Homo sapiens: one gene and its partners. The protein of the gene in region 3 purifies or fractionates together with the protein of the main gene of each other region. This does not show direct contact. Each region holds a gene or a part of one and is shown on either strand. Other genes may lie near its edges. The genes, in order: DNPEP, MTMR4 and PADI4.

Region 1 (3,336 bases), on a different chromosome or scaffold from region 3:
GTTGGTTGGGGCAACAGTGGGAGAAGAGGCGGAGGAGGTAGAATAGGGGGTAGCAGGGGTGGGGGTTCAGGAGAGCCAGGCATACTTGGTATAACTTTTTTTTTTTTCCAAGACGGAGTCTTGCTCTGTTGCCCAGGCTGGAGTGCAGTGGTGCGATCTCCGCTCACTGCAACCCCCGCCTCCCAGGTTCAAGCAGTTCTGTTGCCTCAGCCTCCCAAGTAGCTGGGATTACAGGCGCCCACCACCACAACCTGCTAAATTTTGTATTTTTAGTAGAGATGGGGTTTCACCATGTTGGCCAGGCTGGTCTCGAATTCCTGACCTCATGATCCGCCCACCTCAGCCTCCCAAAGTGCTGGGATTACAGGTGTGAGCCACCGCACCTGGCCGGTATAACTTTTATTGGGACAAATCCACATGTAAGTGGATGAATTTGAACTGCACAGGTCCATTTATATGTGGATTTTCTTCCACCTCTGGGGTAACATTTCTATCACCCTCTTAAAAGTTTTCTTGCACCCTTTTGCAACCAAACTCTCTCTCAATCCTTGACATTCAAGCAACCACTGGTCTGCTGTCACTATAGTTCAGCTGGCATTTTCTAGAATTTATCCCATGGGAAAAACCAAGGCAAATGTACAATGATATATGTACATTTATCTCAATGTTATTTAGAGTTGTCAACTGGAGAAAAACTTAAATGACCATTATTAACAGACTGAATAAATAATGACCATCTATACAATAAAATACTGTACGCCAATTGTAAGAGTAAATACAGTGTGAGGGTAAAATTTTTTACATAAGTAATACATGGTACATTCTGTTATACAAAAGGAAACCATTACAAAAAGGCTAAGGCCCTTTTGTCACTCCCAACCCAGAAGATCACTGTAAAAGTTTCAGGTGCATTTTTCCAGGCTTTTTCTATACATGTATACATCTACGTGCATATTTATATACACATAAAAATATATAATAATTTTTTTTTTGAGACGGAGTCTGGCTCTGTCGCCCAGGCTGGAGTGCAGTGGCTCAATCTTGGCTCACTGCAGCCTCTGCCTCCCTGGCTCAAGCTATTCTCCTGCCTCAGCCTCCCGAGTAGCTGGGATTACAGGCACCCACCACCACGCATGGCTAATTTTTTTTGTATTTTTAGTAGAGAGGTTTTCACCATGTTGGCCAGGCTGGTTTTGAACTCCTGACCTCAAGTGATCTGCCCACCTCGGCCTCCCAAAGTGCTGGGATTACAGGCATAAGCCACCGTGCCTGGCCATATAATGTTTTGAAGGTACTCCTTGTCCTGTGTCCAGTTCTGCAACCTGCCTTTTCTACTCAACAATGTCTTTGTAATCTCTTCATGTTAGTACACACACTATACAATTTATCTTTTTCTCAATAGCTACCTATAATGGACATTTCATAGTGTATTTGGGCTTGCCTTTACTGAGAAATCTTTAGATGAATTCTAACTTTTTGCCATTGCTAAATTAAATTTATATGTATTGATATAGAAATATCTCTATATTATATTAAGTTTTTTAGAAAGCTGAAGTGGAATATTTATATGGAAATAAACTTTTATATAGGTATCAAAAAGATTGGAAGGACACCAGTTTGCACAATTATTTTAGTGGAAGGAAGGAGGTTGGTTTATAAGCAGGCTTTGACTTTTTCTTTTTCTTTTTTTTTTTTTGAGAGAGTTTCACCCTTGTTGCCCAGGCTAGAGTGCAATGGCAGGATCTTGGCTCACCACAACCTCCGCCTCCTGGGTTCAAGCGATTCTCCTGCCTCAGCCTCCGGAGTGGCTGAGATTACAGGCATGTGCCACCACGCCCGGCTAATTTTGTATTTTTAGCAGGGACAGGGTTTCTCCATGTTGGTCAGGCTGGTCTTGAACTCCCGACCTCAGGTGATCCGCCCACCTCAGCCTCCTAAAGTGCTGGGACTACAGGCATGACCCATCACGCCTGGCCTTTTTTCTCTGAGACAGAGCCTTGCTCTGTTGCCCAGGCTGGAGTGTGGTGGCTCCATCTCAGCTCACTGCAACCTACGCCTCCTTGGTTCAAGCTATTCTCCTGCCTCAGTCTCCTGAATAGCTGAGATTACAGGTGTGTGCCACCATGCCTGGCTAATTTTTTTGTATTTTTTTTTAAGTAGAGATGGGTTTCACCATGTTGGCAAGGCTGGTCTTGAACTCTGACCTCAAGTGATCCACCTGCCTTGGCCTCCCAAAATGCTGGGAATACAGATGTGAGCCGCTGCACCCGGCCAGACTTTGACTTTTCCAATTTTTTCAATGATAATCTTTTTTCCTGATAATATGTTCACAATCAAGTAATACCAGGGACTGCTGAGAAGTGGATGATGAAGGGTGATAAGGTATAGACTGTGCCCTTCTCTTTGCAGCTCCTGAGAGGGGATGGGAAGGGATTTTGGGAGGGTGAGAAACAGCTTTGTCTGCCCAGAGCAGCTCTGAAGGTGGCCCAGTGCAGAACAGGATCTCTGAAGGCAGAGCGGGACACCCATTCTGGGGATGGAAAGAGGGAAGACCGTTGAGGCCATTTCCCAGGTGGAGGACTAGGGGTGGGAGAAGTGACCTTCTGCTTGAGGATCCAGTCCACCCTTCACCCACTTCAGACATGGACTTGAGACAGAGAAGAGATTTAAAACCAGATTTAAAACCATCAGCTCCCAGGAGTGTGGCCTCCTCCACCTGCTCCCCAACTTTTCTGGTTCCAAAGGTTCAAGCCAGGCTCAACTCCCACTCCTCTAGTCTCCAAATAAGCGTAGCACGGAGAGTCTGAGTGACAATCCACTTTAATAATCCAGCTTCAGCTCAGCTGAGAACTTCCCCTCTCAGGTGCAAAGGGATGGCAGAGAAGTCTTTCCAAGAGGGCTCAATCCACTAAGAGATTATGGCTTAGAGAAGGGAACAGCTCAAAGAAGCCCTATAATGGGAGGCAACATGGAGTTTGGAATTAGTGAGTGACCAGATGGAGATGTCCTGCCACCCACCTCCCACCAACATATGTTCCAGCAAGAGAAGCACCGAGGTTTCATCTGTTCTTGACAGCCACCCCAGTCTTCTCAGCCCTGATCCCCTCTTCCCATCCCCTCATTTTCCATTTCTTTGGGTCAGGGCCCCTGAGCCTTGAGAAGAATAAGGACCGTTGTTTTATCTCTTTTTTCTCTTTTGTAGAGACATGGACTTGCCATGTTGCTCAGGCTGGTCTCAAACTCCTGGCCTCAAGCAATCCTCCCACCTCCCCAAGTGTTGTCATTATAGCATGAGCCACTGTGGTTGGCCAGGACCCTTGTTTTCCTACATGGCCC
Region 2 (3,651 bases), on a different chromosome or scaffold from region 3:
TTCATACTTCCCCATAGAGTGTCAATTCTCAGTCAACCAGGTTACCCAAAATCTCCAATTTTGACTCTTTCCTTGTTGCATAAGAAATGGCCTCCCTACTTCCCAGCCCCACTGCCTCACCTATACACAACCACGGGAATCCGCTTCCAGGAGCGGAAGGAAGCCACGTTCTCCAGCTCTTTGTCAGTGATCCACACAGGAACCAGCAGCTTCTGGGGGTAACTGGGGCACAATCTGAGAAGAGACCAGGTGGGGGTCACTGCACTGGGTCTAAAACATGTGATGACAGGATCCCTGGGGATGGCTTTGTGGGAAGAGAAACCATGAGCCTTCCTCCCTCTCAGACTCAGAAGCTGTGCCCACCACACTTTATCCAAACACGGAAGTAGTTTGGTGTGGAAGGTGTTTTGGTCCCCAACCCTCTCACTTGTAGTTGCTGTTGATGTGTGAGACTCTCCAGACGTTCTGCAGGTCAAAGCCCATCCTTGCAAGCTCCGCCTCCTGTCGACAACGTATGTGCTCACCTGCAACAGAGCCCCCACGATGGTTAGCTTCCCAGAGCACCAATGTGCAGGAGTGGAGGAGGGATGAGAACTAAGGGGTAAGAAGCAGCCTCCCAAAGAAAATAGACTGGCCTCACCTGGCTGACATAGGTGAGTGTGCTGGTCCTCCTCGGTCAGCCCCAGGCACCAGGCATGGTAGGCAAAGGCAAAGAGGTCTTCAGGCTTGGCAGGTCTTGCTGTGGCTCGGCTTAGCCGTGAGAGCCACTCTTGGCACTGCTTAAAAGTGGAGAAGTGGCACCTGCCAGGCAAGAAGCCACAGGCCTAGGTGAGGCAAAGTGCAGTTGTGCCATGGGGCTATCAGGGCCAAAAACACAGCCACAGGAAGGCTGTGAGGAGAGAAGGCTGCAAAGCAAGAGGTAAAGCAGTGGGGACCCAGGGTGGGGGGACGAGGGACACTGGCCAACACCCAACAGAAGTTGTCTCTTGTGATAATTCTCTTCCCAAGAACTCCTGTGTTTGAGGCATACTTATCCTCTCGAATGGGGCGCTACTGTTTCTCGTATCAAATCTAAATGCTACCATGTGGCCCTGAACGTCTGCACTCCTTGTCCCTACCCTAATGGACCAGTGTTATCTCCCATGACTCCCTAACTCAAACCTTCTGCTTCAGGCGGGAAGTTCTGCTCACATCCTTCCCATCTCCTTGGTTTATCTTCTGCTTGATAATGTCTCCTCTCTGCCTAGCCACATCCTACTGATGCTTTGAAGATAGTTTCAGTCTCACCTCTTCCTTGAAGCCTTCCCAGCCTACTCTATTCCAGAAACTCCTTCCTCTCTTGATTCTTAATGTGCTTGGAATATATATATATACCTTTTTTTTTTTTTTTGAGAGAGGGTCTTGCTCTTGCTCTGTCACCCAGGCTGGAGTGTAGTGGCACGATCACAGCTCCCTGCAGCCTCGACCTCCTGGGCTCAGGCAATCCTCACAAATCAGTCCCCTGAGTAGCTGAGACCATAATTGTGCACCACCACGTCTGGCTAACTTTTTAAATTCTTCATAGAGACAGGGTCTCTCTATGTTGTCCAGGCTGATCTTGAACTCCTGGGCTCAAGCGATCCTCCTCCCTCGGCCTCCCAAAGTACTAGGATTACAGGTATGTGCCACTGTGCCTGGCCTACTTGGAGTACTAAGCAACACATTTTCCCATAGCATATTGCCACATGTTAAATCTTCTTCCAGCAGCTAGAGTTTAGCCTCCTTGAAGGGAAGGGCAATGTGAATGCTCCTTCTGAATGCCCCACAGACCTGAGCACATGGTAGGCTCTAAAGTAGGTATCCTTTTAATAAACCTTGGAGTCATCCAGATTCCTCTTTCTTTCACTTCAAATCTGTCAGCAAATCTTCTCATCTCCACCTTCAAAATACACCCAGAATCTGAATGCTTCTCACCGCTTTGGCTGCTACCACCTCAGACAGGCCACCATGATCTCTCATCTGGGTAACTGCAATAGCTTCCTAACTAGTCTCCCAGTTTTTGCTTTTGCTCTTGCCCCCATTCTCTTTCATCTAGTCTCAATATAGCAGCCAGTGTGATTCTATGAAACATTAATCAGATCACATCACTCCTTTGCTCAAAATCCTCCAGTGGTTTCTCAGTTCCCTCAAAGTAAAAGCCAGTCTTCATGACAGCCAAAGTGTCTGACACCCGGCTTTGTTCTCAGGTCATATAACCCACTACCCTCACCCACACGTGCTCTACTCCAACAACACCAGCCTCCCTGCCAGTCTCCCAATATGCAGGCACACACCCACCTCAAGGCCTTTGCACTTGCCGTTCTCTGTCTCTGGCACACTCTTCCACCAAATAGCCACATGGCCACTTTCTTCAAGTCTTGACTCGACTGCCACCTTTTCGGTGCAGCTTCTCTGATCACTTTTGTTTTTTTGAGACAGGGTCTCACTCTGTCATCCAGGCTGGAGTGCAGTGGTGTAATCACAGCTCACTGCAGCCTCGACTTCTCAGGCTCAAGAGGTCCTCCTATCTCAGCCTCTTGAGTAGCTGGGACTACAGGCATGCATCACCACGCCTGGCTAATTTTTTATATTTTTAGTAGAGATGGGGTCTCGTCCTGTTGCCCAAGCTGATCTTGAACTCCTAAGCTGAAGCGATCTCCCCACGCATCACCACACCTGGCTAATTTTTTCTATTTTTAGTAGAGATGGGGTCTCGCTATGTTGCCCAGGCTGATCTTGAACTCCTAAGCTGAAGGGATCTTCCCACCTTGGCCACCCGAAGTGCTGGTATTACAGGCGTGAACCACCGTGCCCAGCCTGATTGTTTTACAATCTTCACCCTCATAGCACTCCTTATTCCCTTTCCCTGCTTTATTTTTTTCCTTTACACTTACTATCATTTCACAAATTTTACTTATTACTTACGGTTGGTATCTCCTCATTGGAATGTAAGCTCTCTGAGGCGGCAAAATTTTGTCTATTTGTTCCCTGCTGTATCCCCAGGGCTTAAAACAGGCTGGCATTGAGTAGGGTACTCAATACATGTATATCAAATGAATAAATAAATAAACCAACAATAATATGAGTGCTCTGTGCCAGATATTGTCCTCGGTGCTTTCATACACATACACATTATCTCACTTAATCCTTACGATGACTCCATGAACTAGGCATTACCCCCATTTTTTCAGGTCAAGATCCTATGGGTCAGTAAACTGACCTCCCAACCCAGAACATGGTCTTCACCTTTTCTTCCAACTGGGGAAAGTGAGGCAGGATCTTTCCTCTCTTGCACCAGAGAAACCCTGCAGCACAGAGAACTGGACAAGACTAGGGCCAGGGGACCTGAGTGAGGCTCCGTTGTTCTCACCTCACCACTTTGGAGTCCTTGCAGGAAATGTGCAACTGGAACATATCACGGCTCTCCACACTGTCAATCATCCGGAGGGGGACCTGTAGAGGAAGGGCAAACTGAAGCTCAGACTCCCCACTGGGTACCACTCCTCACCCTCACCCTAGCGTAGGCACTAATGTATCAATAGCAGGAAGGAAACCAACATTTACTGAGGGTCTGTTAAGCACCTGGTAACTGTACGGAGTCCTCTGCATATGTGATCCCAATTAATGATCCCA
Region 3 (3,651 bases):
ATGACTGTCTTTTTTTTTTTTTTTCCCGAGACAAAGTCTCACTCTGTTACCCAGGCTGGAGTGCAATAGCATGATCTTGGCTCACTGCAACCTCCGTCTCCCAGGTTCAAGTGATTCTCCTGCTTCCGCCTCTCAAGTAGTTGGGATTACAGGCTCCTGCCAGGACACCTGTCTAATTTTCGTATTTTTAGTAGAGATGGGGGTGTCACCATGTTAGCCAGGCTGGTGTCGAACTCCTGACCTCAAGTGATCCACCCGCTCTGGCCTACTAAGGTGCTAGGATTACAGGCGTGAGCCACCGCACCCGGCCTCAAGATGACTGTCTTAACAGACACTGTCTTGCTGTCACTAGTGATTAGCACCTGGCACCCGCTGTTGAAGGCTCTGCCAAAATTACACTCTTCCTTGCAAGACGTTGATGTCCATTTAGATCAGCCCAGGACCCTCTCCTTGTCCACATCACTCTCCTTGGACTGGTTCACTGACCCCTTTTCCTATCCCCTTCTCTCTTGATGTTAAATATTGCTTTGTTTGGTAAGAATGTTTCATCTGTAACATTTCTGTGTTGATTAAGTACACTACTATGTATGGTTTGCAGGACTGACTGACTTGTGGAGTGGCTTGAGCCTGTGTGCCCAGGGCTCTGCCCACCTGAGGACTGCCCCTGGGGAACTCCGTGTGGCTTGTGGATTTTATGATGGAAATAGCATCAGTAGAAGCCTGACCTTGTGGAAAGACACCAACGTGCATGGACCTGGTCACGTCTGACCTTGTACCACTCAGGACAAAGCTACAAACGGTTACAGAGAGGAGCCAAGCCCTCTGGGACCGCCCGGGTGCCCCACTGGCCTCTCGGGCTGAGCTACCTCCATGCCACACCCTGGGGTTTTAAAGCCGCCACCTCCTCACCATGTTGGGGAAAAAAGCTTCCGCCTTAGAGAACTCTTTGAGCTTGAAGAGCTGCGGGATGTCAATGATGTCACTCTCGGCCAGGCCCAGCTCCCGCTTCAGCAGCTCGCGGTTCCAGTCGATGCATCTCTTGGGGAAGGGGCAGGGGCAGTGAGTGGGGGACTGATGGCAGTCGGGGGTGGGGGTGGGGGACAGTGTGGGGCTGAGGCCCCCTGCCGGAGGGTAGGACCTGGGACAGTGTCAGGAAGGCAGTGAAGGTGGCTGCCAGGCCTCACTGCACAGAGGGGCCTCTGGCCAGTGCTCTCGGGGGACCCTGGGGCCTCCCATTCCCTCTGCTCCCTCAGCCTCTCCCAGTCTTTGCTTCTGCCCTTGCTTCTGTGTCTCTGTCTTCCAGCGCATCCTGAGACCCTGAGCCTCTGTGTGCCTCTAATCACTGGGAAAGTGGCTGAGCCGGGGACAGGGCGTCAGGTCTGCTGGGGTGTAGGCACCCAGGCTCCTACCTCCACAAATGAATTATGTTCTCTCAATGTCTTGTTTGACAGAATGTTCTTTATTTTCTGCTGTTTTTTTTCTGTCATGGAGAAAAAGAAAAAAAAGGCAAATGAACTTAGAGGTCGATTTCCCTCTTCCCAGCCAGTGCCGGGGGGGGACTCAGTGTTCCCATCTATAAAATGGAGTCAGTAATAATTCTTACCATACAGGTTTGCTGTGAGCATCTGCAAGTCAAATATCTTTAATACAATATTTTAGCAGTATAAGTTCTCATTAAAAATGTTGTTCTCACCTCATTTAAATTCTTTTTAAAATATATTTTTATTTTTATTATTATTTTTTTTTTTTTTTGAGACGGAGTCTCGCTGTCGTCCAGGCTGGAGTGCAGTGGCGCAATCTCGGCTCACTGCAGGCTCCGCCCCCTGGAGTTCACGCCATTCTCCTGCCTCAGCCTCCGGAGTAGCTGGGACTACAGGCGCCCGCCACCTCGCCCGGCTAATTTTTTGTATTTTTAGTAGAGACGGGGTTTCACCGTGTTACCCAGGATGGTCTCGATCTCCTGACCTCGTGATCCGCCCGCCTCGGCCTCCCAAAGTGCTGGGATTACAGGCGTGAGCCACCGCGCCCGGCCTAAAATATATTTTTATAGTGTAATTTTTTTTTTGTTTTGAGACAGAGCCTTGCTCTGTCGCCCAGGCTGGAGTGCAGTAGTGCGATCTTGACTCACTGCAACCTCCACCTCCCGAGTTCAAGCGATTCTCCTGCCTCAGCCTCCCCAGTAGCTGGGATTACAGGTGCGCACCACTGCGCCCAGCTAATTTTTGTACTTTTAGTAAAGTCGGGGTTTCATCACGTTGGCCAGGCTGGTCTCAAACTCTTGACCTCAGGTGATCCACCCGCCTCAGCCTCCCAAAGTGCTAGGATTACAGGTGTGAGCCACCACACTTGGCCTAGTTTAATATTTTCTTGTTTTTTTTTTTTTTTTTGAGACTGAGTCTTGCTCTGTCACCCAGGCTAGAGTGCAGTGGCACATTCTTGGCTCACTGCAACCTCCACCTCCCGGGTTCGAGTGATTCTCCTGCCTCAGCCTCCCAAGTAGCTGGGATTACAGGCACCCGCCACCACGCCCGGCTAATTTTTGTATTTTTAGTAGAGACGGGGTTTCACCATCTTGGCCTAGCTGGCCTTGAACTCCTGAACTCGTGATCCACCCGCCTCGTCCTCCCAAAGTGCTAGGATTACAGGCATGAACCATCGCGCCCAGCCTAGTTTAGTGTATTTTAATAGCACACTTACAGGAACAGCACAGAAAACAGACAACATTAAAAATATCTACTTGCATGCAGGACAGACAGCTCAGAAAAGTATAGTGAATGGATGGAATCTACTGTGTGATAAAAATGCTACAAGTACCATTTAGTTGCTGTCAATAAGAAATGTCCTTGTTTTAAGCCAGGCGTGGTGGCTCATGCCTGTAACCCCAGCACTTTGGGAGGCCGAGGTGGGTGGATCACCAGGTCAGGAGTTCGAGACCAGCCTGGCCAGCATGGCAAAACCCCATCTCTACTAAAAATACAAAACATTAGCCAGGTGTGGTGGTGCACACCTGTAATCCCAGCTACTCGGAAGGCTGGGGCAGGAGAATCACTTGAACCCGGGATGCAGAGGCTGCAGAGAGTCGAGATCGCGCCATTGCACTCCAGCCTGGGCAATAGAGGAAAACTTCGTTTCAAAAGAAAAGAATGTCCAGAAAAATTTAACAGGTTTACTTATAATTATTATAAAGTTGAACCATGAAACTTGTTCACTGGAACATTTTGCCTTGCATTAACGCTAAATTATCTTATCTCCAAAGAGATCCCATCGAGAGAGGAAGAAACAGGTCAGCCCTCTCCTGATGCCACACAACATACTCAGATCTGAGGTGGAGCTCTCAGCCACAGAGGCATCTCAGCCCGGGGCCTGGCCCATGTCTGTGAGCTCTGCTGAGAGAGTAATATTTCATCTGTGCTCCAGCTATACCGAACCTCCCCGAGGTCCTCACACACATCGTGCTTTCTCCTGCCTCTGAGCCGCCCCACCCCCGTCCCTCTGCCTGTGGTATCTCTCTTCCTCTCATTTCCCTGCCCCGTTTGCCCAGCCAACCCCTACTTGCATGCTACTGCTTGGCCTCTGCCTCCTCCAAGAAGCCTTCCCTGAGCTCCATCCACTCAGACACCCCTCAAAGCCCCTGTGTTGGAGCTGTTCTTT

The links.
Region 1: the proteins of PADI4 (region 3) and DNPEP purify together in Homo sapiens (co-immunoprecipitation; one large-scale study listed by IntAct). This does not show direct contact.
Region 2: the proteins of PADI4 (region 3) and MTMR4 purify together in Homo sapiens (affinity purification with mass spectrometry; one large-scale study listed by BioGRID and IntAct). This does not show direct contact.

The regions. Positions count from the first base shown.
Region 1 is NC_000002.12:219,371,392-219,374,727, forward strand, and holds the end of DNPEP (aspartyl aminopeptidase), read right to left. Parts: intron 2,952-3,336; coding exon 2,901-2,951; 3' UTR 652-2,900; downstream 1-651.
Region 2 is NC_000017.11:58,508,041-58,511,691, forward strand, and holds part of MTMR4 (phosphatidylinositol-3,5-bisphosphate 3-phosphatase MTMR4), read right to left. Parts: intron 3,472-3,651; coding exon 3,389-3,471; intron 802-3,388; coding exon 641-801; intron 525-640; coding exon 428-524; intron 235-427; coding exon 121-234; intron 1-120. UniProt on the Homo sapiens protein: Lipid phosphatase that specifically dephosphorylates the D-3 position of phosphatidylinositol 3-phosphate and phosphatidylinositol 3,5-bisphosphate, generating phosphatidylinositol and phosphatidylinositol 5-phosphate.
Region 3 is NC_000001.11:17,356,667-17,360,317, reverse strand, and holds part of PADI4 (protein-arginine deiminase type-4), read right to left. Parts: intron 1,481-3,651; coding exon 1,410-1,480; intron 1,039-1,409; coding exon 910-1,038; intron 1-909. UniProt on the Homo sapiens protein: Catalyzes the citrullination/deimination of arginine residues of proteins such as histones, thereby playing a key role in histone code and regulation of stem cell maintenance.